7 linked regions of the Homo sapiens genome follow. The protein of the gene in region 2 interacts with the protein of the main gene of each other region in a biochemical or structural test. Each region holds a gene or a part of one and is shown on either strand. Other genes may lie near its edges.

What was found.
Region 1: the proteins of ANXA1 (region 2) and G3BP2 interact in a test that uses a peptide from one of them, tested with the Homo sapiens proteins (one large-scale study listed by BioGRID).
Region 3: the proteins of ANXA1 (region 2) and AP2A2 interact in a test that uses a peptide from one of them, tested with the Homo sapiens proteins (one large-scale study listed by BioGRID).
Region 4: the proteins of ANXA1 (region 2) and GAPDHS interact in a test that uses a peptide from one of them, tested with the Homo sapiens proteins (one large-scale study listed by BioGRID).
Region 5: the proteins of ANXA1 (region 2) and EEF2 interact in a test that uses a peptide from one of them, tested with the Homo sapiens proteins (one large-scale study listed by BioGRID).
Region 6: the proteins of ANXA1 (region 2) and CLIC1 interact in a test that uses a peptide from one of them, tested with the Homo sapiens proteins (one large-scale study listed by BioGRID).
Region 7: the proteins of ANXA1 (region 2) and MYH9 interact in a test that uses a peptide from one of them, tested with the Homo sapiens proteins (one large-scale study listed by BioGRID).

What each region holds. Positions count from the first base shown.
Region 1 is NC_000004.12:75,663,412-75,666,911, reverse strand, and holds part of G3BP2 (ras GTPase-activating protein-binding protein 2), read left to right. Parts: intron 1-3,500.
Region 2 is NC_000009.12:73,165,365-73,168,864, forward strand, and holds part of ANXA1 (annexin A1), read left to right. Parts: intron 1-732; coding exon 733-828; intron 829-2,132; coding exon 2,133-2,191; intron 2,192-3,500. UniProt on the Homo sapiens protein: Plays important roles in the innate immune response as effector of glucocorticoid-mediated responses and regulator of the inflammatory process. Has anti-inflammatory activity.
Region 3 is NC_000011.10:932,370-935,869, forward strand, and holds part of AP2A2 (AP-2 complex subunit alpha-2), read left to right. Parts: intron 1-1,155; exon of another isoform or gene 1,156-1,228; intron 1,229-3,500. UniProt on the Homo sapiens protein: Component of the adaptor protein complex 2 (AP-2). Adaptor protein complexes function in protein transport via transport vesicles in different membrane traffic pathways.
Region 4 is NC_000019.10:35,532,014-35,536,255, forward strand, and holds the start of GAPDHS (glyceraldehyde-3-phosphate dehydrogenase, testis-specific), read left to right. Parts: upstream 1-1,442; 5' UTR 1,443-1,514; coding exon 1,515-1,581; intron 1,582-4,242. UniProt on the Homo sapiens protein: May play an important role in regulating the switch between different pathways for energy production during spermiogenesis and in the spermatozoon. Required for sperm motility and male fertility.
Region 5 is NC_000019.10:3,979,010-3,982,463, reverse strand, and holds part of EEF2 (elongation factor 2), read left to right. Parts: intron 1-39; coding exon 40-218; intron 219-411; coding exon 412-517; intron 518-1,011; coding exon 1,012-1,125; intron 1,126-1,484; coding exon 1,485-1,623; intron 1,624-1,754; coding exon 1,755-1,950; intron 1,951-2,397; coding exon 2,398-2,656; intron 2,657-3,027; coding exon 3,028-3,135; intron 3,136-3,454. UniProt on the Homo sapiens protein: Catalyzes the GTP-dependent ribosomal translocation step during translation elongation.
Region 6 is NC_000006.12:31,733,731-31,737,796, reverse strand, and holds the start of CLIC1 (chloride intracellular channel protein 1), read left to right. Parts: upstream 1-1,266; 5' UTR 1,267-1,496; coding exon 1,497-1,535; intron 1,536-3,533; coding exon 3,534-3,643; intron 3,644-3,835; coding exon 3,836-3,961; intron 3,962-4,066. UniProt on the Homo sapiens protein: In the soluble state, catalyzes glutaredoxin-like thiol disulfide exchange reactions with reduced glutathione as electron donor. Reduces selenite and dehydroascorbate and may act as an antioxidant during oxidative stress response.
Region 7 is NC_000022.11:36,293,968-36,297,467, reverse strand, and holds part of MYH9 (myosin-9), read left to right. Parts: intron 1-453; coding exon 454-625; intron 626-1,750; coding exon 1,751-1,963; intron 1,964-2,391; coding exon 2,392-2,536; intron 2,537-3,169; coding exon 3,170-3,376; intron 3,377-3,500. UniProt on the Homo sapiens protein: Cellular myosin that appears to play a role in cytokinesis, cell shape, and specialized functions such as secretion and capping. Required for cortical actin clearance prior to oocyte exocytosis. Promotes cell motility in conjunction with S100A4.

The sequences.
Region 1 (3,500 bases), on a different chromosome or scaffold from region 2:
TCATGAGTTTTTCATGGCCATGGATAAGATAGTTGAAACCTTTTACTCCCATATTCAGAATTTTGTTTCGTTTTGTTAACTTTTTTTAAGAAATGGAAGGTCCCAGATCTAGAAATGGATTACCTGTAAGATGATTTGCTATGAATAATAAAAATGGCACAATTCTTTCTTCTTGTAATCACTTTTATTCTGAAAGTGTAATTTGGCTTTTTTCCTTTTTCTCAACCTTCTTACGTACACTGCATGAATTATAAATACGAACTTTATATTACTTACTCAATTTTCATAGTCTTATTTCCTGCAATACCCAAACCACGTTGTTTGATGGTTGATCTCTAGTAGTCATTTTCTGGTTGATTTCTATCAATTATATTTTGGCTCTCTAAATTCTGAGTCACTTCAAATCGGAGTTATGGTTAAAGAAGTAACTGATGTAATTAGTTGAAACACTGTTCTCTCAGTAAATCTTGATTTTGTTTTACCATTCCTTTGGGAGCCTCCTCTGCACCTTAAAAGCTCAGCTTTCTATATAACCTGTTATATGCCTGTTTAGATTTTACCAGATTAGCATTGCCTTACTTATTTACCATTTGAAGTTAACTTTTCAAGTTACTGCCTTCCAATAGTTCTAAGTATTAATTTATTGAGTATTGATTAATCAAATATTACTTCTACTGCCCTTCCCTGTCTCTCTGTTCTAAATTGATGGTATGTTGGCCATTATACTTCAGTGACCATGTAGATAGTGGGCAATTTGAAGCTTTTTTTGAACCTTGTTACAACAAATCTTTAGAGCATTTTGACCTGTGATATTATATATGTATTATGTACCATTTTATTTTGGTTTGAGAAACAAATATGTAAGTGACAAAAATGATAGATCAGTATGTACTCTATGAATATGATGGGAAATTTGGGATAAATGACAACAGTGTTCCTGTAGAAAATCTGGAAATCCAGAGAGAAGAAAACAATTCCCAAACCCGGAAATTCCTAATAGTATTTCTGTCACTATCAATTTAAAGAAAACTATTTTGTGTATAGTTATTTTGTTCAGAGAGTAATGTAGTATTTTCCCATGTGTTAGTATTATTTTACCATCAGTTTTTATGGTGTTAAAATACATATAATTTCCATGTTTTAGTTATCTTGTTAAATTTTACCAGGTAAGTCTACTGTTCTTTACCCACCCTCATTATTCAAAATAAAAATGTTAGTTGCTTAGCTGTGTGTGTGTGTGTGTGTGTGTGTGTGTTTGTTTGTGTGTTTGTGTGTGTGTGTGTGTTTGTGTGTTTGTGACTACAGGTGTGCACCACCATGTCTGGCTAATTTTAGATGGGGTTTTGCCTTGTTGCCCAGGCTGGTCTTCAGCTCCTAAGCTCAAGCAGTCTGCCCACTTCGACGTCCCAAAGTGCTGGGATTACAGGCGTGAGCCACAGCCCAGTGCTTTGTTACTTTAAATGTAGCATATGTGAGTCCTTTTTGCACTAGGGTTGTTACCCTTATTGGGAGTTTTAAGTTTTCTGGAAAATCAATGACACCTGAAATGGCAGTATTTGGATCTGCTCTTTGTGAATTAACTATTTTTGAAAGCAAGTGAGGCATTATAAAAAATTTTAAACAGATTTGGGGATTTTTGTAAATCAAGTTTGAGAGTTTAAGAAGGACAGTTAGAGGAGGGATAGTTTGTTGGAAAGGAAGAAACAAGGAACCTAAAAACATAATGTAGAAGTTGAATTGTGAGTCACTAGAATTATGTAAAGCTACACTCTATCTGTAAGCTCTACTATAGTTGGTATTTGATTTTTATTAAAAACAGCATCACAATTTTAATGACCTATGCAGGGCTGTCTCTGAAATTGTTTTAGTTATTTAAAGTAAACACACATGGAAATTGACTTTTTATTTTTAATTTTTTGTATAGAGATGGGGTCTCTCTGTTGGCCAGGCTGGTCTTGAACTCCTGGCCTCAAGCTTTCCTGCCACCTCCACCTCCCAAAGTGCTGGGATTACAGGCATGATCCACTGTGCCAGCCTGCAGTGTTTTTTTGTCTGTTTGTTTTGAGACAGAGTCTTACTCAGTTGCCCAGGCTGGAGTGCAGTGGTGTGATCGCGGCTCACTGCAACCTTTGTCCCCCAGGTTAAAGTGATTTTTTGTGCCTCAGTCTCCTGAGTAGCTGAGATTACAGGTGTGTGCCATCAGCTCTGCTAATTATTTGTATTTTTAGTAGAGATGGGGTTTCACCATCTTGGTCAGGCTGGTCTCGAACTCCTGATCTCAAATGATCCTCCCAGCTCAACCTGAAGTTTAAGCAGGACTTTATTTATTTATTGAGATGGAGCCTCACTCTGTTGTTGCCCAGGCTGCAGTGCAGAGGCATGATCTTGGCCCACTACAAACTCTGCCTCCTGGGATCAAGCGATTCTCCTGCCTCAGCTTCCCAAGTAGCTGGGACTACAGGCGCCAGCCACCACGCCTGGCAAATTTTTGTATTTTACTAGAGAAGGGGTTTTACCATTTTGGCCAGGCTGGTCTCGAACTCCTGACCTCAGGCGATCTGCCCACCTTGGCCTCCTGAAGTGCTGGGATTACAGGCGTCAGCCACCGCACCTGGCTAAGCAGGAATTTCAACTGCATCCTGATTTACCCAGTAGATACATGCTTAGGAATTATGATTTTTTTTTTTTAGTACTTTTAAGTTTAATAGGTCTTTTTAAAATAAAACAGGTGGCTGGGCACGGTGGCTCACGCCTGTAATCCCAGCACTTTGGGAGGCTGAGGCAGGTGGATCACGAGGTCAGGAGTTCAAGACCAGTCTGGCTAACATGGTGAAACCCCGTCTCTACTAATAATACAAAAATTAGCCAGGTGTGGTGACACGTGCCTGTAGTCCCAGCTACTCGGGAGGCTGAGGCAAGAGAATTGCTCTGCCGGGAGGCAGAGGTTGCAGTGAGCCAAGATCGTACCACTGGACTCCAGCCTGGGCAACAGAGCAAGACTCCATCTCAAAAATAAAATAGGTTATATTTCATATTTTTATTTTTTATTTTTTTGAGACGAGTCTCGCTCTGTCGCCCAGGCTGGAGTGCACTGGCGCGATCTTGGTTCACTGCAACCTCCGCCTCCCGGGTTCAAGCAATTCTCTGCCTCAGCCTCCGGAGTGGCTGGGATTACAGGCACCCACCACCACACCTGGCTAATTTTTTTATTTTTAGTAGAGATGGGGTTTCACCATCTTGGCCAGGCTGGTCTTGAACTCCTGCCCTTGTGATCCACCCGCCTTGCCTCCCAAAGTGCTGGGATTACAGGTGTGAGCCACCGTACCTGGCCCTGGGGATTATATTCCTACAGTAAATGATAAGTTTTGTTTGTGGCTCACACCTGAAGTGAGAGGATCACTTGAGGCCAGGAGTTCGAGACCAGTCAGGGCATTGTAGCCAGACCTCGTCTCTGCTAAAAATAAAAATTAAAAAATTTAAAAAAATTAGCCAGGTGCATG
Region 2 (3,500 bases):
GTCCAATTTTGTACAGCCGCTACTTTATCATATTTAATACATTTTGTGACTTGGGCATGTGGAACATAATTTTGTTATTTTCACTGCTTTTACTCCCCTAAAAGATTTGGAATATGTGTGGGAAAAGACATGCATAACAGAACAAATGAAATTAGAATGAAGAAAAACAAAAAAAAAAAAACAAAAAACCCTCAGAGCTAAATGAAGAAAGAAATATGTAGGTGCTTTGGAAAAACAACAACAAGACAAAACTCAGAAAAAGTCCTGGCCTTTGAGTGCAAGATTTAGCTCTGGGCCTCTTGGAAGTGAAGGCGATGGAAAAGTTATGACAATTACCAAAGTTCACCATCTTATAATAGTATACTGATTTCTACTGTTAAATGTAAGAGAAATTTAGTGCACAGGTCTTTATATAAGGGAAGATCCATTTGCTGTGGCTCTTAGAACTGCTGTAGGAAGTGCTATAGTTGTCAATCACATGCCGTTTCTAATAACTGTCAACATTTGCAAACATTTCGCCAAAATATATAGGAATACCAAAATGGCCAGGTAAGTTACATTCCTAGGAGAGGATGAAGTATTCACGTTATGATTAATTGGGTATATTGCTTTAAAAGGTGTAGCCAAAGTTGTTATTCTAAAAAATTCTTTGAGTCAGTTGCCTTGATTTTGCTAAAGCTTTCTAAAGAAAAGGATGTTTTGCATGTATCTTAGTTTGAATTTAATATTCAGTGTTTCAGAAATACACCAAGTACAGTAAGCATGACATGAACAAAGTTCTGGACCTGGAGTTGAAAGGTGACATTGAGAAATGCCTCACAGCTATCGGTATGTAGTCCAGCAGTTGAAAGAGTTTTCTAACTAGAAATTGTATTTTCAAAGCTATCCTATACTTAACAAGAACAACAGCAACAAAACCAATAAAAGAAAACAAAAAACAATCAGAAGTAGTGCATCTGTTTCAATTGAAGCAACGTAAAAGATTGGCAAAGTACTATAACCTTAATAACAATAGATATTATTCCCCTTTTCAAAAATAGAGAGAGATAGACTATACTTATTGAGCACCTACTTATATCAAACAATGTACCAGGCTGGGCACACCACAGAGGCAATTCAGAATGGTCACTGAGAGCATGGGATCTGGAATAAATGTAACATCTGGATAAATGTAACTTCAAGTCCTGGTCTACTGCTTGTTAATTGTACAATCTTGGGCAGGTCCAGGAGAGTCTGATTCAGTGGGTCCGAGTTGGCCTCTAAAAATCGGTACTTTTTAAAGATCTCCCAGGTTATTCAGACAACCATCAGGGTTGGGGAACCTATGTTCTCAAGCAGTGTTTCTCATTCATGACTATGCACTTGAATCCCCTGGAAAGCTTGTTAAAATGCAGATTCTGATTCCCCAGGTCTGGGGTGGAGCTTAGATTCTGCTTTTCTAACAAGCTCCCCATTGATGCCAATGCTGTTGGTCCATAGATCTCGACAAGATGAAGAACACTATGAACTGGAATGTGCTAGTATTATTTGGGTTCTGTTTTATATTTAAGCCCATCCTATCCCAGAGTTTTTTCTTCATTTATTCATTTATTTTTACTTATTTGTTTGTGCAACTCTTACTTTAGACACAGAGGTACATGTGCACGTTTGTTCCATGGGTGTTCTGCACTCAGGCAGTGAGCATAGTACCCAATAAGTAGTTTTTTGACCAATGCCCCTTCTCTCCCTGCCCTCTCTAGTAGTCTGCAGTGTCTGTTGTTCATAGGGTGTTCTTTTTAAATGTTCTTATAGTAACATAAATAAAGTATTTACATAGGCTTGAACACCTAGTGGCTTCTCCACTCCCAAGGAGAATATATGTTGGATAGCGCAAACTACTGAAGTTGCTCTTGAGATGTATTTAAGGTAATAAAAAAATTGATCGTCAGGGAAAAGAATATTCAAAACCACCATCTAGAGAGTCACAAATACCTTCTCAGAAGTTAACTGCCCTATATTGGGAGATGAGAGGTGAAGAATGATGATGAGGGATAGAACACTGTTGGCAAAATTCTATATTTCCTGTTTCTTTCATATGGATATTTCATTTTTTTCATGGTAAATACATCAACTAAAATTTTCTTCTCTAACAGTGAAGTGCGCCACAAGCAAACCAGCTTTCTTTGCAGAGAAGCTTCATCAAGCCATGAAAGTATGTACCATTCTACTTATATGTCCTGCTTAGAGGAAGAATTATTTGTAGAAAGAACAGAAAACCTCATGTTGTTTGAAAATCTCACATTTAATATCTTCCCATTAATGAGAATCATTGTTCTATTTGATGAAAGAGGTAATACACTACCTTCTCAGAATAAACTTCTGTTAGATTCGGTGCTTTTTTTTACAGATGAGATTGTAAAGTGAGCCTGTAAGTGATTTACGGCTCACTTGTGATTTGCTTAAAACATGTGTCACCACGGGAAGGGTGATGTACTTTCTTTTTTAACGTGTAATTTTAGTGGCCTACTTCCTCTAAGGTTGTGAGTTTTATAATCTCCCACTTTATGAGTCTGATTTGTTGTTTTTATTATTCTGTCTTTTATGCCACAGATTAATAGTTGAAACTTTTGAAATGTCATTCTATGATTAAGGATGTAGAATGATGTATTTGAGATCAACTATGTCACTTTAACTTTACTGTCTGACATGCATGGTATTATACAAGGTACCTCTTCTATTCTGACATTTTGAGCCCACAAATGAATAGTTATGAAGTTATCTTCCTTTTTTCTTTGCAGCTCCAAAATAAGGAGGTTTTCAGAGAGAGAGAGAAAGAAAGATCTAACTATTTGAATAATATGAAGGAATATTTTGAATATATATGAATAATTTGAATAATATGAAATGATAGACATGCTAGGTACTGCTCTGTAGTGGTTAGCATAGTTGCTGCCCCCTTTCTGCCATAGTCTAGTGTGATATTTCGTTGGGTAATGATGAATACCTGGTGCCATGGAAGAGAAAAGTGGGACATATACTCCAGACTTTGGAAATCCAGGTAGCATTGCTGTCAGCTAAATTAACACCTGAAGTTTAAATAGAAATGAGCCAGATGAGGGCAAGAGTGGAAGAGATGGGGATAAAGCAAGGGTGGTCCAAGAGGAAGAAGTAACCCACACACAGGCTTGAAGGCAAAAGGTAACATAACCTTCTCAAGACAGTAAGTATAGAGTGATGGTGCACACTGGAAGAGATGGTAGAATTAGGCAGGATATTGTAAGCCTTGAAAAAGAATTAGGCAGGATATCGGAAGCCCTGATTAGATTCTATCCTAAGAGCAACAGAAGATCACTGACAGTGTTTTAAATAGATAGACTAGTTTATTAGATTTGCAGTTTAGAAGTTCCCTTTTTTTGTAATTATTGGACAGTGTAGAGACCGGATGGTGAGAGATGAGTTAGGAAGTTGTGACAGCTCTCTATACCTACCGCTAATGTAGAGGATTATTTATTTTCATTTCA
Region 3 (3,500 bases), on a different chromosome or scaffold from region 2:
AACTGAACACTAAATTTTAAACTCTGCTTAAACTTCAGTATAAAAATTAAACATAAAGTTATACTGATTTTCGTGCAGACGAGTGAAGATCAGCATCAGAATTGGTCAGTCTGCTTTTGCATTTCTTAAATAACCTTCACAGTTAAAAGCTCATTTTGTCCTTTTGACTGTACATTCCTAAAAAGTGCTGACTCTTAGAAAAGAATGCTCTCCTTGCATGTCTTCTTTTGCATGCTTCTGCATAATGTGTGTTCCTTAGAAACCAGTTTAGGAAATGTGTCATGGTGGCTATGGAGAGAAGGAAGGAAGTCCTTGCTCGGGTTGAATTTTTCTTGCCAAGGTTGGTGGTCACTGCTTCTGGGACACCCTGGTTCTCTTCACAGTGTTTTCCGTCTGGCTCCTCTGAAGGTCAGGATCACTTTCTTTTATGACAAGTTGAAGTGTCCTGGTGGTGAACATATTTTGTGCCAGATACTTACTATTACTTCTCTTTCCTCTTAAAATGAACTGTTACTTTTGGTAACAATCTGTGTCAAGATTTTGTAGTAGAAGAGTTCCTGGAAAGGCTGTCAGTGAAGGATTAAATGGCATTTCCTTGGCTCTTAAAAAAATCAAATACGCCGGGCGCTGCGGTTCACGCCTGTAATCCCAGCACTTCGGGAGTCCGAGCCAGGTGGATCACCTGAGGTCGGGAGTTCGAGACCAGCCTGACCAACATGGAAAAACATGTCTCTACTAAAAATACAAAATTAGCCAGGTGTGGTGGCACGTGTCTGTAATCCCAGGTACTTGGGAGGCTGAGGCAGGAGAATCACTTGAATTTGGGAGGCGGAGGTTGCAGTAAGCCAAGATTGCGCCACTGCACTATAGCCAGGGCGACAAAGTAAGACTCCGTCTCAAAAACAAACAAACAAAAAACCCCAGAAATGAACAGTTTTTACCAGGCCACATGATGTCCCAGACTTAGATTATAAAACCACATTTGCTGATTCTGGCAGCATGTTCCTTCTTCAGAACCTTCCTGACTTTAGCTTGAAAGCTGAGCTGGTTGAAACGTCTTGAAAAGCAGTATGTGCAGTTTTGTCACGAGAGAATTTCCGGGTGGGTGGGATAGGTTGAGGTGGGTGTTCCCGTGTAGAAGTGGGGGCTGAAGCTGTGTGGTAAGATGAGCTCTGTGCTTGGGACAGGGTTGTAAGGGTCTGGCCAAGACGCATAGAAGAAATAGCATGTGAGTAGGAAGCAGCCCTATTTTAAATAGCGCCCTGGAGACTTGAATTGGGAAGAGGACCAAGAAGAGTGTGAGGCAGTGAGATGCCCAGCACCAGGGTGGGAGAGGCGAGTTCCAGTGACTCGTGGGCACTCAGGAGCGGGGATGACCCCAGAGACACAGGGAGCTTGGAACCATGCTTCTGTATTCAGACATGACTTTCTGCCAGCTTTGCACGCTTTTTCCTGAAACATTGTTGGCAGAGGGGAACTTGTATCTTCTGTTCAGTTGATTCTCGATTTTAAACGTTTGTTGCCTTTTGGAGCCTGCACTTCCCCTTACCTGGTGATTGGAGTGTGGGAATGGTTGGGGGTATCAAGGCTTCAGCAGGCTGGGAAGGTGGCAGGAGCACAGGGTGCCAGGGGTGGGCTGAGGGGCTGGTGGGTGCTCCGGGATTTTAGGAGGAGTGCTGTGCCCACAGCTGCTGTGTGTCCCTGAGGCCAGGGAAGTCCTGACTCCCATGCTAGGTTCTTTCTGCCCCATGTAGCTCCCTCAGCGCCCCCACCCCGATACCTCAGGAAACTCCAGGTCGAAACTCCAGGTCGAGTGGCAGACCTCCTGCTGGGTGCGTTCTTAGGAATAACACTTCTAGCCGGGGGTTTGGGTCAGATCCTGATTCTACTCTCCTTTGTTTCCCACTTTTAAATTTTTTATATTTATATTTAAAATTTAGAGACAGGGTCTCACTATGTTGCCCAGGATGGTCTTGAACTCCTTGGCTCAAGTGATCCTCCCCCATCAGCCTCCCAGAGTGCTGGGATTTATAGGTGTGAGCCACTGCGCCCAGCCCTTTCCCACCTTTTCAAATTGTAGCCCTGTCGAGAGCCTGGAGTCTTCATCTTTGCCTGAAATTCAGACTCCGAGTTGTGATGGTTTTGTGTTCATCTCTGTGCTTGGCTTCAGGATACTCCCCATTTACCTTTCTTCTCACCCACCCTAAGCTTTGGTGTCTGTCTACGGGTTTGCTTAGAAGTGTAGAGACCAACAGCCAACATGGGGTGCCTGGCTTTTGTTTTTGCGTTGTGGGGTGTTTTTCTTACCTTTAAAATCCCTCTGATGGCAGCACAAGGGTGTAATGAGGATTAGTTATTTAGCATATCTAAAGAACTTTGAGCTCCTTAGGGCAGGCGGCACTGTATTAGGATTTATGTTTTGCTTTTTCTGTGGACCGCCTTTGTGTTTCATGTAATGTAGCTGAAATAGCAAGTACGTGTTTCTTTTCTTTTCTTTTTTTTTTTTGGAGATGGAGTCTCATTCTCTCACCCAGGCTGGAGTGCAGTGGCGCAATCTTGGTTAACCGCAGCCTCTGTCTCCTGGGTTCAAGCGATTCTCCTGCCTCAGCCTCCGGAGTAGCTGGGATTACAGGAGCGCACCACCATGCCCGGCTAATTTTTGTATTTTTGGTAGAGATGGGGTTTCACCATTTTTTTTTTTTTGAGACTGAGTCTTCCTCTGTTGCCAGGCTAGAGTGCAGTGGTGCGATCTCTGCTCACTGCAACCTCTGCCTCCCAGGTTCAAGTGATTCTCCTGCCTCAGCCTCCCGAGCAGCTTGGACTACAGATGCGCGCACCACCATGCCCGGCTAATTTTTGTATTTTTTTTAGTAGAGACGGACTTTCACCATGTTGACCAGAATGGTCTTGATCTCTTGACCTTGTGATCCGCTAGCCTCGGCCTCCCAAAATGCTGGGATTACAGGTGTGAGCCACCGCGCCCAGCTGGGGTTTCACCATTTTGGCCAGGCTATTCTCAAACTCCTGACCTCAAGCAATCCACCCACCTCGGCCTCTCAAAGTGCTGGGATTACAGGCATGAGCCACTGTGCCTGGGCGGTTTTGAATTTTTAGTAGAGACAGAGTTTCGCCGTGTTGGCCAGGCTGGTCTTGAACTCCTGACCTCAAGTGATGCGCCTGCCTTGGGCCCCCAAAGTGTTGAGATTACAAGTGTGAGCCACTGTGCCCGGCCAGTTTTTTTTTTTTTTTTTTTTTTGAGATAGAGTCTCGCTGTGTTGCCCAGGCTAGAGTGCAGTGGTGTGATCTCGGCTTACTGCAACCTTCGCCTCCCGGGTTCAAACAATTCTCTGTCTCAGCGTCCTGAGTAGCTGGGATTGCAGGCACCTGGCTAATTTTTTGTATTTTTAGTAGAGACGGAGTTTCACCATCTTGGCCAGGCTGGTCTTGAACTCCCGACCTCGTGATCCACCCGCCTTGGCCTCCCAAAGTGCTGGGAATTA
Region 4 (4,242 bases), on a different chromosome or scaffold from region 2:
ATCGCACCATTGCACTCCAGCCTAGGCAACAAGAGCGAAACTCTGTCTCAAAAAAAAGAAAAGAAAAGAAAAGATTAGCGATCAGATGAAACCTGAGGAATTGACATTTATTCATTCAGGTATAGTTTATTGGGCTAACGCCTTTTTCAGACAGGGTCTTGCTCTGTCTCCCAGCTGGAGTGCAGTGACACAATCACAGCTCACTGCAGCCTTGACCTCCTAGGCTCAAGTGATCCTCCCACCTCAGCCTCCCTAATAATTGGGACAACAGGCATGCACCACCACACCTGGCTACTTTTTTTATTTTTTGTAGATACAGGGTTTTGCCACATTGCCCATGTTGGTCTCAAACTCCTGGACTCAAATGATCCTCCCACCTCAGCCTCCCAAAGTGTTGGGATTACAGGCATGAGCCACTGCGTCCAGCCCACAAACACCTTTCAGGTGCCAAACACTTTTCTTGTCAATGGGATACAGAAGTGACATAGATGACGTCCCTGTCCTCTCAGAGCTTACAGTCTGGTGGACAGAGACAGTTGGCAAGAAAACAAACAATTTTTAGAGAGACATGTGCTCTAAGGAAAATAAAAACATAGACAGTGTAGCCCTAGAGAAATTTTGCACACTGAAGCATAACTCAGAATGGAGAAGTCAGACAAGGCTTCCTGGAAGATGGGCAGAAATTGGGAAGGGGGTGACGGCTGACAGTGACAGAGAAAGGAGGGAACTTAGATGCAGAGTGTAGAAAGCCTCTCTTAAAGGGTGGGAAACCAAGAGGCAGCCAAGGGAAGCCCTGGGTGGGCCTTCCAGGCATACGGAGGCAGCAAGAGTCACTCCACTGGAGAATCCAAGGGACAGCATGGAACCTGTGTGCTTCAAGAGACAGAGAAGAGGAAAGGGCTTTCAGGAACAGTGTAAAAGGTGGGATTCCAGGCTGGGTGTGGTGGCTCGCTCCTGTAATCCCAGCATTTTGGAAGGCCGAGGTGGGAGGATCGCTTGAGCCCAAGGGTTCTAGACCAGCCTGAGCAAAAGAGTGAGACCCTCTCTCTACAAAAAAATAAAAAGTAAAAATAGCCTGCAGTGGTGGCTGCACATGTAGTCCCAGCTACTCAGGAGGCCGAGGCGGGAGGATCGCTTGAGCCCAGGAGTTCAAGGCTGCAGTGAGCCATGATTGCACCACTGCACTCCAGCCTAGGAGAAAGAGTGACACCCCGTCTCAAAATAAATAAACAAATGATAATTTTAAAAAGTGGGATTCCATTCCAGACGGCAGTGCGTGGCCGTGGAACGGTGATGCATAGCGTGCTGACGTCCCATGCCTCTACGGGGATGGGATGCGATGGTGTCAGGCCTCTGGCTTGGGCGCCGCCCCTCGGCGACGTCACTGGGTACTGTGACGTCACTGGGTGCTGTGACATCAGGGCAATTAGCCCAGGACCCACAGCCCTGGCGCTCCGCACGCACCTCGGTAACATCACAGCAGGTCCAGGCCAATGATAACCTTATAAGAGGCCATGTCGAAGCGCGACATCGTCCTCACCAATGTCACCGTTGTCCAGTTGCTGCGACAGCCGTGCCCGGGTGAGGGAGGCAGCGGAGGGCGCGGGGGAGGGGTGGAAAGGGTAGTGGGGAGCGTCTGCACCCTCACACCTGTGCCGTATCCCTACCGCCCTTCCTGGCGTGTGCACCATCTAGGGACCAGGGGATCAGCCGCTCTCCCTCCCTCCACACCCGCCAGTGTGCTGGCAGAGTGGGGTTTACTGCCATGGCGGGGAGACCGGGCCTCCGCCCCCAGGGCTGGGTGGGCTTCGCGCCGCTATCACGCGGTAGAAAGAGCAGAAACGAGGGCCATCGGAGGCTGCAGCCTGAAAGTGGCGGGAAGTGGGCGGGCTTAGGAGGGGCTTAGGGAGAACCCAGGGGTGCTGGGCTTCCATGTAAAAGTGATGTTCATGGCGCTTCGCGTGAGGTGAGCTTTGCCCTCCCTGTGATGCACAAAACAAGGACACTTGGAACCTTGCCGGGGACGTGCTGACCACTTCGCAGGCGAGAGCTCAGGGAAGCCTCACCACCACCTGAGAAGGCCAGAGTGTGCCCGCAGTTTACAGAGCGGCCAACAGAGGTTAAGAGAGGGCAAACTACTTCCTTAGTCTCTCAACAAGGGCGGCGCGCCCGCGCGCGCGCACACACACACACACACACTCACTCACTCACTCTAGCCGGAGGAACCAGGTCTTCCGGTGGGCTGCCTCCATTCCCACACTGTTCCCTCACTTCCCAAGGGCGGGGGCCGCAGGGGTAGGTGGGGCTGGGGCTTTGGTCCAGGAGACCCTGGAAGACACAGGAGCAGACAGGCTTACCAGCCTCATGAGACTTGAACCCCTGCCCTGCGCATCACTGCTCCGTGGCCTCAGGCTTCATTTTCCCCTCTGTAAAGTGGGTTTATAGCGCATGCCTCTCGGGATTCAGTGGGAGGACGCAGTGAGGAGCTGGGGGCAGCACCCAGCTAGCCCCCAGGCTTTTCTCCAACCGGGGGACCCCACCCCTACAGTGGAGGGGAAGAGAGTGCAAGGCTGGGAGTGCTGGGAGAGGAGGACCATCTGAGTTTTCTTCGGAAGGGTCACCCATTGGGCTCAGATTCCCACCTGAACCAGGTGGACAAATCCCCTTTCTCCCATAGCAGAAACAACCCCCAAGGATGCAAACATCCTCAAGTTCACCAATAAACACTAACACCTTCATGAACTTGGACAGCCACTGGAAACACCTATAGTCCAGCCTCAGGCCACAAGGTCTGTGGCAACAGGGAGAGGTCAGGGAGACAGACAGGCCAGCTGGCCCCCGGCTCCCAGCCCCACCACCCCCCAGGTGCCTTTGATTTGGTGCCAAAAACTTGGACTCCCACTACCCCCTTCCAGCCCTTCTCCACCCCCTGCTGTCTCCCTTTCCTCAGGAATCTGTGTAGGATCAGACTTCCCTCCTCTATTAAAATCAGCTCCTATGTGTGGGCCTCGAGATCTCACTGCGCCCTCACAGCAGCCCCTAGGTGGGGGATCAGCCCCAAGAGGTTCATTAACTTGCTCAAATCCACAGAGCAGCAGGTCTGTGTGGACTGAGCCAGGCTTGACTTTCCAGCTTGAAACTCTCTGCCACCAGGTCCCCTGAGTCTCCACTTCTCCCCTCTTCTCAAGCCCTCCTCTGTAGCTCAGGCGGCTGCTACCTCCAGGCGCAGGTGTTTTTAAGTGCAGTCTGGGAGCAGGAGTGTGTGTGGAGAGGTGGGAGCCAATGTGAGCTTCCATGGGTTTCACAGAGTATGATACACGGTACTCTCTAAGCTTCCCTGAGGATAAGAAATGCCTGGAGTGCTTATTTTATTTTTTATTTTTTTTTGGGAGATGGAGTTTCGCTCTTGTTGCCCAGGCTGGAGTGCAGTGGCACGATCTCGCCCACCACAACCTCCGCCTCCTGGGTTCAAGCGATTCTCCTGCTTCAGCCTCCTGAGTAGCTGGGATTACAAGCATGTGCCACCACGCCTGGCTAATTTTTTTGTATTTTTAGTAGAGACGGGGTTTCTGCATGTTGGTCAGACTGGTCTCAAACTCCCAACCTCAGGTGATCTGCCTGCCTCGGCCTCCCAAAGTGCTGGGATTACAGGCGTGAGCCACCGCTCCCGGCCTGGAGTGCTGATTAAAAACAGGATTTCTGGGCCTCCATACAGACCCACTGAGTCCGATTTTTCTAGGAAGAGCCCTCCTCAGGTGATTTTTTTTTTTTTTTGAGACAGAGTCTCACTCTGTCGCCCAGGCTGGAGTGCAGTGGCGCAATCTCGGCTCACTGCACCCTCCGCCTCCCAGGTTCAAGAGATTCTCTTGCCTCAGCCCCCCGAGGAGCTGGGATTACAGTATTTTTAGTAGAGAACAGGTTTCTCCATGTTGGCCAAGCTGGTCTTGAACTCCTGACCTCAAGTGATCCACCCACCTTGGCCTCCCAAAGTGCCAGGATTACAGGTGTGAGCCACCACGCCTGGCCACTCCGACGACTCCTATCATGGAACAGTTTGGGGACCACTGGGCTAAATCAATTATTGGACAAATTCGGGGAACAATCTACAAAATACTAATGCATGTCAAACATTTCCTCGGCTTGGTCATAAGCAATCCATGTATTACCTCATTTAATCCTCACAACAACCCTCTAAGAAAAGTACTATTATCTCCCCTTACAGAGGAGGAAACTGAGGCACAG
Region 5 (3,454 bases), on a different chromosome or scaffold from region 2:
GGGGCCCTCACGGCTGCTTCTCGTTTCTCACACTTCCAGATCGATCCTGTCCTCGGTACCGTGGGCTTTGGGTCTGGCCTCCACGGGTGGGCCTTCACCCTGAAGCAGTTTGCCGAGATGTATGTGGCCAAGTTCGCCGCCAAGGGGGAGGGCCAGTTGGGGCCTGCCGAGCGGGCCAAGAAAGTAGAGGACATGATGAAGAAGCTGTGGGGTGACAGGTGAGCCCCGCGGGATATGGTGGGGGATTCCTGACACCTGGGGGTAGTGGCAGCGACGTAGGGGCGTGGTGTGCTATTCACAGCGTGGCTCAAGCCCACCAGGTCTTGCCCAAGCATGTCCCCTTGGCGACCACCCTCCCCAAGTCATCCCCTGGAGACCCTAACTTGATTTGGCTTGGCCTCTCCTTGCCAGGTACTTTGACCCAGCCAACGGCAAGTTCAGCAAGTCAGCCACCAGCCCCGAAGGGAAGAAGCTGCCACGCACCTTCTGCCAGCTGATCCTGGACCCCATCTTCAAGGTGAGTGAGGGCTGCGCCAGGCACCCCGCCGATGCGACTATTGGCCCTCGGCCCTGTGGGCTCCGGCCGGTAGCCTGTCGGCTGACTGGGCCCGTCTCCTTGTGGGGCAGATGCGAGATGGGAGGAGGCACAGCTCCTAACTGAGGTGGAGTCAGGGCTCCTCTCTTAAGATCTGGACTGCATAGCCAGAGCCTTGGGACCTCTCCTGCATTGAGGGGGTTGAATAACTTGTGGCTTTGGCGGTTCAGTGCTTGTAAGTCAGAACTTGGGTCCTTGTCTGAGTCAGAGTGGGCTTTTTCCTCTGCTCCACCACGAGGTTTCCTCCAGCTCCCGATCCGCTCAGCTGGCTGGGCCCGTGGTAGGCAGGCCAGGCCTGCTCCTGCTCCCGTGCTGCGTCCCCCTGCGCTGACCTGAGTCTTCCAAGCAGGAAGCAGTGCCAGGCTTCCTCCTGCTGTTCCCAAATGGGCTTTCTTGTTTCTTGGTGGGGAATGTAGGTGTTTGATGCGATCATGAATTTCAAGAAAGAGGAGACAGCAAAACTGATAGAGAAACTGGACATCAAACTGGACAGCGAGGACAAGGACAAAGAAGGCAAACCCCTGCTGAAGGTGCGGCCTGGGCCCAGCCCTCGGGGTGGAGGGAACACAGGCTGCTGTTTCCGGATGCTCTGACAGCCCAGGCCTGGGGGCTGAAGTCCTCAGCTGGGCAGGGACAGCTGCTGCCCCTTTCGCTTTAGACTCTGGGTGCTGCTGGAGACACATCCCAGCAGCCAGCCCCATCCGGGACAGGTGTGGGTGAGGGCCTTGGCAGGAGTGTGCATGGCCTTTGCCGCCTTCCAGAAGGGACTGTGCTTTGGAGAACGTTAGTCCTGACTTTGGCTTCCTTGGCTTCAAGAGAGGAAGCGTGTACGGGGTGGGGCCATCCTGGGCTCCCCAGGTGTCTCATGCACCGCTCTCTGCCCCCGCAGGCTGTGATGCGCCGCTGGCTGCCTGCCGGAGACGCCTTGTTGCAGATGATCACCATCCACCTGCCCTCCCCTGTGACGGCCCAGAAGTACCGCTGCGAGCTCCTGTACGAGGGGCCCCCGGACGACGAGGCTGCCATGGGTACGTGGTCCCGGTGGCCGGGCCCTGAGATGCAGCCGGATGACTTCCTGTTGCCCAAGGTTGTGGGTTGCAGGGTTCCAGAAGGCTGAGCTGCACTGGAATAAAGCTTGCGGGTTTTCTCTGTCCCTCAGGCATTAAAAGCTGTGACCCCAAAGGCCCTCTTATGATGTATATTTCCAAAATGGTGCCAACCTCCGACAAAGGTCGGTTCTACGCCTTTGGACGAGTCTTCTCGGGGCTGGTCTCCACTGGCCTGAAGGTCAGGATCATGGGGCCCAACTATACCCCTGGGAAGAAGGAGGACCTCTACCTGAAGCCAATCCAGAGGTGAGCAGCTGGGTGATGTGCAGGCCCCTTGGCACTGTTGCGGGCCCTGCCCTGCTCCAAGTCTTGGGCTCCTCAGTCGGGAGCTAGAAGTAAGGAGCATAGAAGGAATATAGGGTGATACTTGTGCCAGCCACAACTTTTGTTCTTAGCCCAGTGAGGGCATTTCTGGAGAAGCTCCAAGCCCCAGGGCACAGCACACCCCTGCTCATCTGTGTCCCTGGGCACAGGTGGGTGGCGGCCGTCGACCCATACCCAGGGAGGAGGGCAGTGATTCTGAAGAGGATGTTTCCTGACAGCCCCGACGCAGCAGTCAGGGCCTTGTGGAAGCCACCAGTCTGCCCTGGGACCTGGCAGGAGGGCCACCAACTCCGGGAGGGACCTGCCCTGGCCCTCCAGGGTCCAGCACAACCATCCCTGCGGCCTGCTGCCGCCTTCTGCTTCTTCCAGAACAATCTTGATGATGGGCCGCTACGTGGAGCCCATCGAGGATGTGCCTTGTGGGAACATTGTGGGCCTCGTGGGCGTGGACCAGTTCCTGGTGAAGACGGGCACCATCACCACCTTCGAGCACGCGCACAACATGCGGGTGATGAAGTTCAGCGTCAGCCCTGTTGTCAGAGTGGCCGTGGAGGCCAAGAACCCGGCTGACCTGCCCAAGCTGGTGGAGGGGCTGAAGCGGCTGGCCAAGTCCGACCCCATGGTGCAGGTGGGCACGGAGTGCACCTGCTGGGAGCAGACACCCTGAGGGGGGACGGCTTGTGTCCTGAGTTGTGGCTGTGTGGGTTGCTGTGGTTGGTGGATTGGGGTGACTGGTCATGAAAGGAGGGGTTCTTGGCTGTGGCTGTAAATGGAGACTCCTGCCCAGGCAGCCACCACCCTCTCCTAGGCTGCTCTGCGCGTGTTCACTGTAGCTTGTGGGACTTAACATTTCTTCAGGAGTTTGTGCTGGTCCCAGTTTCCCAGCACCTTCCCTGAAATCTTGTTCTGGCGGGGTCCCTAGCTAAAGGGAAGCTGGGAGCCTGGTCCCGCCTGTTCCGAGCCGCCTACCCCTTTGGTGCTGACCCGCATCCCTTTCAGTGCATCATCGAGGAGTCGGGAGAGCATATCATCGCGGGCGCCGGCGAGCTGCACCTGGAGATCTGCCTGAAGGACCTGGAGGAGGACCACGCCTGCATCCCCATCAAGGTGAGGCGCCAGTGACCAGCCTTCCCCACGCCCCACCCCGGACACCTGCCCTCTGCTTTAAAGCTGAGCTGAGCTAGGCTCTGCAGACGCCTAGACTTGATCTCGGTCTTGGTCTCAGCTTCTTAAGTTCCTCAAGTTTCTTCTTTGCAGTCTTCCACAGGCATGTGGGGCTGTTTTTGTTGTTGTTGTTGTTTTTTTTGAGATAGTCTCGCTGTGTCATCCAGGCTGGAGTGCAGTGGCGTGATCTTGGCTCGCTAGAACCTCCACCTCCCGGGTTCAAGCGATTCTCTTGCCTCACTCAGCTTCCTGAGTAACTGGG
Region 6 (4,066 bases), on a different chromosome or scaffold from region 2:
GTCCCCAAGGACTCTACTCCCACTATTCTGTCTGATCTTTCTTTATCCCCATGACAGGACCAGCTAACAACACCCCTACCCCACCCCCTATACACATACTTCAGGATCGGGCCATGATAATCCCACCCCTCTGCCCCATCTCCAAGGCAACCTGTCAGTGAGACGAGGACAAAGGGCACAGGAAGGGGCCCCAATAGGAAACATAAGTGGAAGCACAAAGCTGACCAAGCTACAGGAACAGACCCCTCCCTGCAACAAAGCCCCTTGCCTCGGCTTTATGTTTCCTTCGCAAAAGACTTCGTCATCTCCCTTCCCATCCCTAACTCTACTTTCTTTTTCTTTTCTTCTTCTTCTTTTTTTTTTTTTTTTTTTGAGATGGAGTTTCGCTCTTATTGCCCAGGCTGGAGTGCAATGGCACCATCTCAGCTCACTGCAACCTTCACCTCCCGGGTTCAATTGATTCTCCTGCCTCAGCCTCCCAAGTAGCTGGGATTACAGGTGCCCACCACCCCGCCTGGCAAATTTTTGTATTTTTAGTAGAGACAGGGTTTCACCATGTTGGCCAGTCTGGTCTTGACTCCCTGACCTCAGGTGATCCACCCCCCTTGGCCTCCTAAAGTGTTGGGATTACAGGCGTGAGCCACCTCACCCGGCCCCTAACTCTATTTCCTATGCCCAATCCCAAGTGTAGGCCACAAGGACTGCAAGTCCTAGTGCTGAGCTGGGCCCGGAGACAGTAGACTGCGGGGGGCACAGGACCTACTGAGACACCAGTCTGGGCAGCTCAGGGAGTGCTGGCGTCACCCCTTCCCTAATCCCAGGCTGCATGGCTAACGGTTCCTATCTGCAGTCCCAGCCTTCCACTTCCGAGTTCTTCTCTCAGACCACAGTCCCAGCAACCCAGAATTTGGATTGGAGTCTGGAAGAAATGCAGAATGATTAAACGACCACCTTTCCATTTGAAGTCCCCATCCCTGAATCTTCACGGGTGTGCCCAAGCTGTTAGTGTCAAGTTTTTTATATGAGGGTCAGTCGGGTTGTACTCAGATTAATGAAGCAGGGAAACTGAGGCAGAAAAGAGTCCTGTGTTCAGGAGAGGTCGGAGAAACAAGGAGGTTTTCAGGACTCCTCCTTAACACCCCCATCCCCATCCTGTGGGAGATCCGAGGATTCCCCTTCCGGACTCACTCCCTACATCGTCGAGTCCCGCCCCCCTCCAGTCCCCTCCCCAGGTTCAGGGCGGGGCCGGTCGGTGAGTCAGCGGCTCTCTGATCCAGCCCGGGAGAGGACCGAGCTGGAGGAGCTGGGTGTGGGGTGCGTTGGGCTGGTGGGGAGGCCTAGTTTGGGTGCAAGTAGGTCTGATTGAGCTTGTGTTGTGCTGAAGGGACAGCCCTGGGTCTAGGGGAGAGAGTCCCTGAGTGTGAGACCCGCCTTCCCCGGTCCCAGCCCCTCCCAGTTCCCCCAGGGACGGCCACTTCCTGGTCCCCGACGCAACCATGGCTGAAGAACAACCGCAGGTCGAATTGTTCGTGAAGGTAAGAACACTTCTCTCCTCAGCCACCCAAATTCCTGGAAGCCAACTCTCACCTTTCCCCCGGTCCAGCCTTAACTCCCCAATCCCTTCCCTCCTTGACTCCCACCCCCAATCCCACGTGCACTCTTTGGTTGAGGGGTGGTTTTGAGAGGGGAAGACATTAACTTGTTAGCAAGTAATGAGAATTCTAGGATCAACCCTGAAAAGTTTGTAAAAGTGCAAGTTTCTAGCAGACTAAAGGAAGGGAAGTGGAGAAAAAGGAGAATTCCCAAAAGTGAGACTGGGGTGGGGTTAGAGGGCGAGCTGGTGAAGGGACAGTGGGGGCCCAGCAGGGTTTAGAAGGGACAGAGGGGAACCTCAGTTAGGACATGTGTCCCTACAAGATCTGAGGGTGAGTAGTGCAGTAGGAGAGGTGTGTGTGTGTGTGTGTGTGTGTGTGTGTGTGTGTGTGTGTGGATGGAGACGCTTCAGGGAAGACGGTGTGTTGAGGGAGGCCTGAGAGTGAGAGCAAGTAAATTGGGAAGCTTTGGAGGGGCGGAACAAAACAGGAGACTGGGATCGGAGTTTGAAAAGCAGAGCTGGAGAGGTGATCGGGTGGCATTGAATATCCCCAGGACTGGGGAAAGGGACAGAAGGGGAGGTGGCAAGAAGACGTGAGTTTAACGTAGCTACCACAAGGATGGGTGGGAGAGAGATCAGACGGAGGAGAAGAGCTCGGTTAGGGCATTTTGGGATTTGGGGGTTGGAGAAGTAGAAGACTTGCCCCAACTCTCTCCTCTCTCTGCGGGTGTGGGTAAGGAGAGATGGTCCTATGGCATTTGGGTAGCAAAACTGCAGGCAGCAGGCTTCTCGGTGTCACCCAGCCCCCCTCTGATTGCAGCGGCCGCTCCCCTCCCTACCGCTGCTGCATTCATTTCCCAGTCTTGGGACCTCCTGGCTGTGCCCCTCCCTCCCTTCCTTAACAGTGTCCTCTTCTCCCCGCTCCGTTTGTGTCTCTCCGTTGGCACGCACGTCTCCCCACTCTCCACTTTCCTGCCGCCTTTCTTTCCCCTTCCCCCCTTTTGTTTCTCTCATCTTTGTGTGTCTCTGCCTGTGTCTCCCTCTCCCTTCTGCTTGGGTTTCTCGGGCAGCCATTCCCTCTCCCTGGGCCCAGGGAAGTCGGAGCCTGCTTGGGTCCGCCCCCTTAGGTGTGGTCCCCACCTCACTCTCACATTCGCCTCCGGGGCTATTTTTACTCGTGGGTGAGGCTGTGCCGCAGAGATTCCGGCCCTGTGTCCTGTGAGAGGATGGTTATTGCAGTCAGAGGACTTGTGCTGGGAGACCCTGGCAGCAGGTTAGGGGTAGCCTTAGCTGCCCAGGCCTCATCCTCACTGTCCCTTCCCCCACATCCTTGACAGGAAGGAAGCCGGAGACAGAGAGATGAATCACCCTCAGCTTAGGGGGAGGTGTCCCTTGGGCCAATGAGGTCACCACTTGCTAATTAGAGGGCAGCCCCTCTCTGTAGGGCCCTCCACATCTCTAGCGCGAGGCCCAGGGCCCCTTGACTAGACTCCCCACCCAAAGACACCTTGGATTGGAGGTGTAGAGAACCAAAACTCTGGCTCCCAAACCCCACCCACCTCTCCTGTCTTCAGACTCTACTCCCTTCAGGAACCCAGAAATCCAGGCTTCTAGCCTACAACTCTGGCCTCACTGAAGTTCCACACCCTTCCCTCTCTAGGATTCAGATCCTCCCAAGTTCTCCAGGACCTCCTCCCTCTACCTACCTCCCACCTGTCCTCAGTGTCTGGGGAACCAGAAGCCTGCCTTTGCAAAACAGTTTCCCATTGATCTGCCTTAGGTTTGACCCAGGCCCAAGGGCAAAGAGCCCATAGTGAGGGGACAGTGTATGTGTCATGACTAGGCAGAAAACAGCTGGTCTGGGAGTGGGAATGCAGGGACTGGCCTAGGGATGGGTGGGGTGCATCAGGCATAACCTTGGGTTGGGGTTACTTTTCAGGCTGGCAGTGATGGGGCCAAGATTGGGAACTGCCCATTCTCCCAGAGACTGTTCATGGTACTGTGGCTCAAGGGAGTCACCTTCAATGTTACCACCGTTGACACCAAAAGGTAGGCCTGCTTATGTTCCTTGAAACACCCCTGGTGTACACATGTGTGCAAACACACACCCACCCGAGTCCTTCTGTCATGAACATTTTTGCCCTCCCCCTGGAGTCCCTTTCTTATCCCACGTCCTCCATTCCCCCTTTCTGGTTCTTCCTGACCCCCATTTCCAGTCCTGATTCCTGATCCTTTCTCCAGGCGGACCGAGACAGTGCAGAAGCTGTGCCCAGGGGGGCAGCTCCCATTCCTGCTGTATGGCACTGAAGTGCACACAGACACCAACAAGATTGAGGAATTTCTGGAGGCAGTGCTGTGCCCTCCCAGGTATAGGGGCACTCAGAAAGTGGAGAGGTGGAGCAGGGAGATTCTGGGAAACAGACAGTTTGCAGAAATGGAAAACAGAGATGGTGGTGGGGCTGGGGCAGGAGA
Region 7 (3,500 bases), on a different chromosome or scaffold from region 2:
TGAGGTATAGAAAGTAGCTTTCCCAAGTGACATCACAGAGTTATAAAGCTAGACATAGAGCCCTGACCGTGCGATTCCAACTGTGGAATTCACACAAGGCAGTTCCATTATATAAGTTCAGATTCACACACAATTGAACATGTTTTTTAGAGATACAGACATGGTACAGCCTTCAAGGGAACCAAGGGAATTACAAACACCAGCTTTAGGAGAGTACTTAATTCCTGGCAGGGAAGGACAAGGGGTGAGTTGGAGAGAGACATGCCAGGGGCTAGCAGTTTGCAGTGATGTCCTCTTCCTGCATCCAGGAGTTGGGTGCGAGTGTCTGTGTGTTTGTGATGCTTTAAGCCTGACACACGTTTCATAACGAGTGCTCAGTATTTTGTATAAGTAATTGACACGGAGACAGAACCCATGGCACTGAGGGCTATGTGGGCTCCCCCTGCATTGCAGAGCGCCTCCGCAGGGAGGAGAAGCAGCGACAGGAGCTGGAGAAGACCCGCCGGAAGCTGGAGGGAGACTCCACAGACCTCAGCGACCAGATCGCCGAGCTCCAGGCCCAGATCGCGGAGCTCAAGATGCAGCTGGCCAAGAAAGAGGAGGAGCTCCAGGCCGCCCTGGCCAGGTGAGGACCCCGCCTGCCCGCCTGAGGCCAGGTGGCCTGGGCCAGCCCTTCCTGCTTGCTGCTGGCCCTAGTTCTCGGCACTAGTGAGCTGTGAGCATTCTTTCCACTGTTGTCTTAAAAGAGCCATTTATTTCATAGCAAAACAGTTCTTGTGCACTCAGGGCATGGTGAGGGGCCTCATTTGTCTTTTGTTTGTTTATAATTTGAAAAAAAGTCATCCACAGCTCTATCACCCACCTACAATAGTCCTTTCCTAATTTCTTGCTATAGGCACACTTAAAAAAAAAAAAAAAAAAAAAAAAGACTTGACCAGGCACGTTGGCTCACGTCTGTGATCCCAGCACTTTGGGAGGCCAAGCCGGGTGGATCACTTGAGGTCAGGAGTTCGAGACCAGCCTGGCCAACATGGTGAAACCCCCATCCCTACCAAAAATATAAAAAATTCGCCAGTGTGGTGGCACACGACTGTAATCTCACCTACTCAGGAGGCTGAGGCAGGAGAATCACTTGAACCCAGGAGGCAGAGGTTGCAGTCAGCCAAGATCGTGCCATTGCACTCCAGCCTAGGTGACAGAGCGAGACTCTGTTTAAAAAAAAAAGAAAGAGACTTTATTTTTTAGAGTAGTTTTAGATTCACAGAAGAGTCAGCAGAAGATTCTCCATCTATCCACTGCCCCACTCACGCACCGCCTCCCCTGCAGTCAACATCCCCTACCACAGTGCTGTGTCTGTTCTAATTGGTGAACCTACGTTGACCTGTCATAACCATCTAAAGTCCGTAGCACATTCGTATTTTTACTGAGTTGCAGTTGTCCTGTGGTGTAGCGTTTTATTTCCTTTTCTTCCCATTTAACACATCATTTGACTTTTAAAAATATTTGAAGCAGTGAATCTTACTTTGGAAATTGAAACGATTCCTCTATGAGGTTTTCTGCTTCTCAGAGGGGTGTTGCCCTTCAATCTGGTTGTCTCAGATGTTGTTTCTGCTGAGAGCCATCCTAAGTGCCATGATTGTGACCACAGGAGGCAGCTTTGGCTGCTGCAGCTCTCTCAGGCCTGTCCTGCAAACTCTGCTCCTTGGAGGTGAAACTCTCCTTATACTGATGTTGCTGGTCGCTTTGGCAGAGTGGAAGAGGAAGCTGCCCAGAAGAACATGGCCCTCAAGAAGATCCGGGAGCTGGAATCTCAGATCTCTGAACTCCAGGAAGACCTGGAGTCTGAGCGTGCTTCCAGGAATAAAGCTGAGAAGCAGAAACGGGACCTTGGGGAAGAGCTAGAGGCTCTGAAAACAGAGTTGGAGGACACGCTGGATTCCACAGCTGCCCAGCAGGAGCTCAGGTGTGCCCTGGGACCAAGTCCCTCGGGATGGGGAGGGCAGCCAGGGGGGCCTTGGCTTGGAGACATGGACCCCGGGCCTCTGCACACACACACACACACACACCGTGGCCCTCTTAGGCACCAGCAGGCATGGAAGCTGCTGGTTCCTCAGCGGTTTCTCTCTACAGAGTAGAAAGTCTGTTGAAGGACCTGGCTCAAAGTTGGGGGTGAGGCAAGGCTGGGCTTTAAAGCTGAAAGGCTACAGAAGCTCTCACAGGGCGTATTTGAGCCTGGGCTATGGGATAGATGGCTAGGAGGGGCCGGTGGGTAGAAAAGCTGCCTGGAGTGCCTGTGCCCTGGCCAGGCCTCTCTTTGGTCAGGGAAGAGCCCCAGGGACAGCCTCGCTCCAGCATCCCCGGCCTCCACTCTGAGGGGATTTCTCTGTCCAGGTCAAAACGTGAGCAGGAGGTGAACATCCTGAAGAAGACCCTGGAGGAGGAGGCCAAGACCCACGAGGCCCAGATCCAGGAGATGAGGCAGAAGCACTCACAGGCCGTGGAGGAGCTGGCGGAGCAGCTGGAGCAGACGAAGCGGGTGCGGAGCCTCCCTGAGACCGCAGGGGGAGGGCAGGGTTCCCCGTGCTGGGCCCACAGAATCCAAACCAGTCCTGCAGAGCAGTTGCAGGGTTCTACCCAACTGCCTGGTTCTGAGGCCAGGCTCCCCTTCTAAGGGGCTTTGTGACTCGTGCCTCAGTTTCCCTGTTCATAAGGGAGGATTATGGTATGTCTGTCTCGTGATTATTTGAGGGTGAAAACATTACATCGTTACTTTGAACATCAGACTTCAGACAGGCTTTATTGGAAGTCTAACTGCAAACAATTATAGTTCCCCTTATTGCGTTACAAATATTGCTAACATCTGCAACACCAATGCCATGCCCTAGAACCTGGCCTCTACCCAGGGCAGAAGGCTGGGCAGGTATTATTTTAGAGATGGGGAAGCTGTGAGATGTCCTAAGCAGTGAAGACAGGAACCAAGTGTCACCCACCAGCTAAGAGAGAAGAGGACAGGACAGATGAGGCCCGAGCCGTCTGAGTCCAGGACGCAGGCACACCGTCGTCAGGGCTGCAGAAGCAGCGATGTCTGGATCTAGGGTCCAGTGATGATAGACCAGCCAGCCTTGTGTCAGGAGGCCCCCACTCACGTCTTTGCTTTCTTCCCTGCTAGGTGAAAGCAAACCTCGAGAAGGCAAAGCAGACTCTGGAGAACGAGCGGGGGGAGCTGGCCAACGAGGTGAAGGTGCTGCTGCAGGGCAAAGGGGACTCGGAGCACAAGCGCAAGAAAGTGGAGGCGCAGCTGCAGGAGCTGCAGGTCAAGTTCAACGAGGGAGAGCGCGTGCGCACAGAGCTGGCCGACAAGGTCACCAAGCTGCAGGTGAGGCCTCCGCCAGGACCCTGGCGCGGGCAGTGGGCCCTAGCAGCAGTTGTGGCCCAGGTCCCCAGGTGCATGTGTGCTCTCTGTCTCTCTCTCTTCTCAAACTGGCTCCTCAGACCCTCAT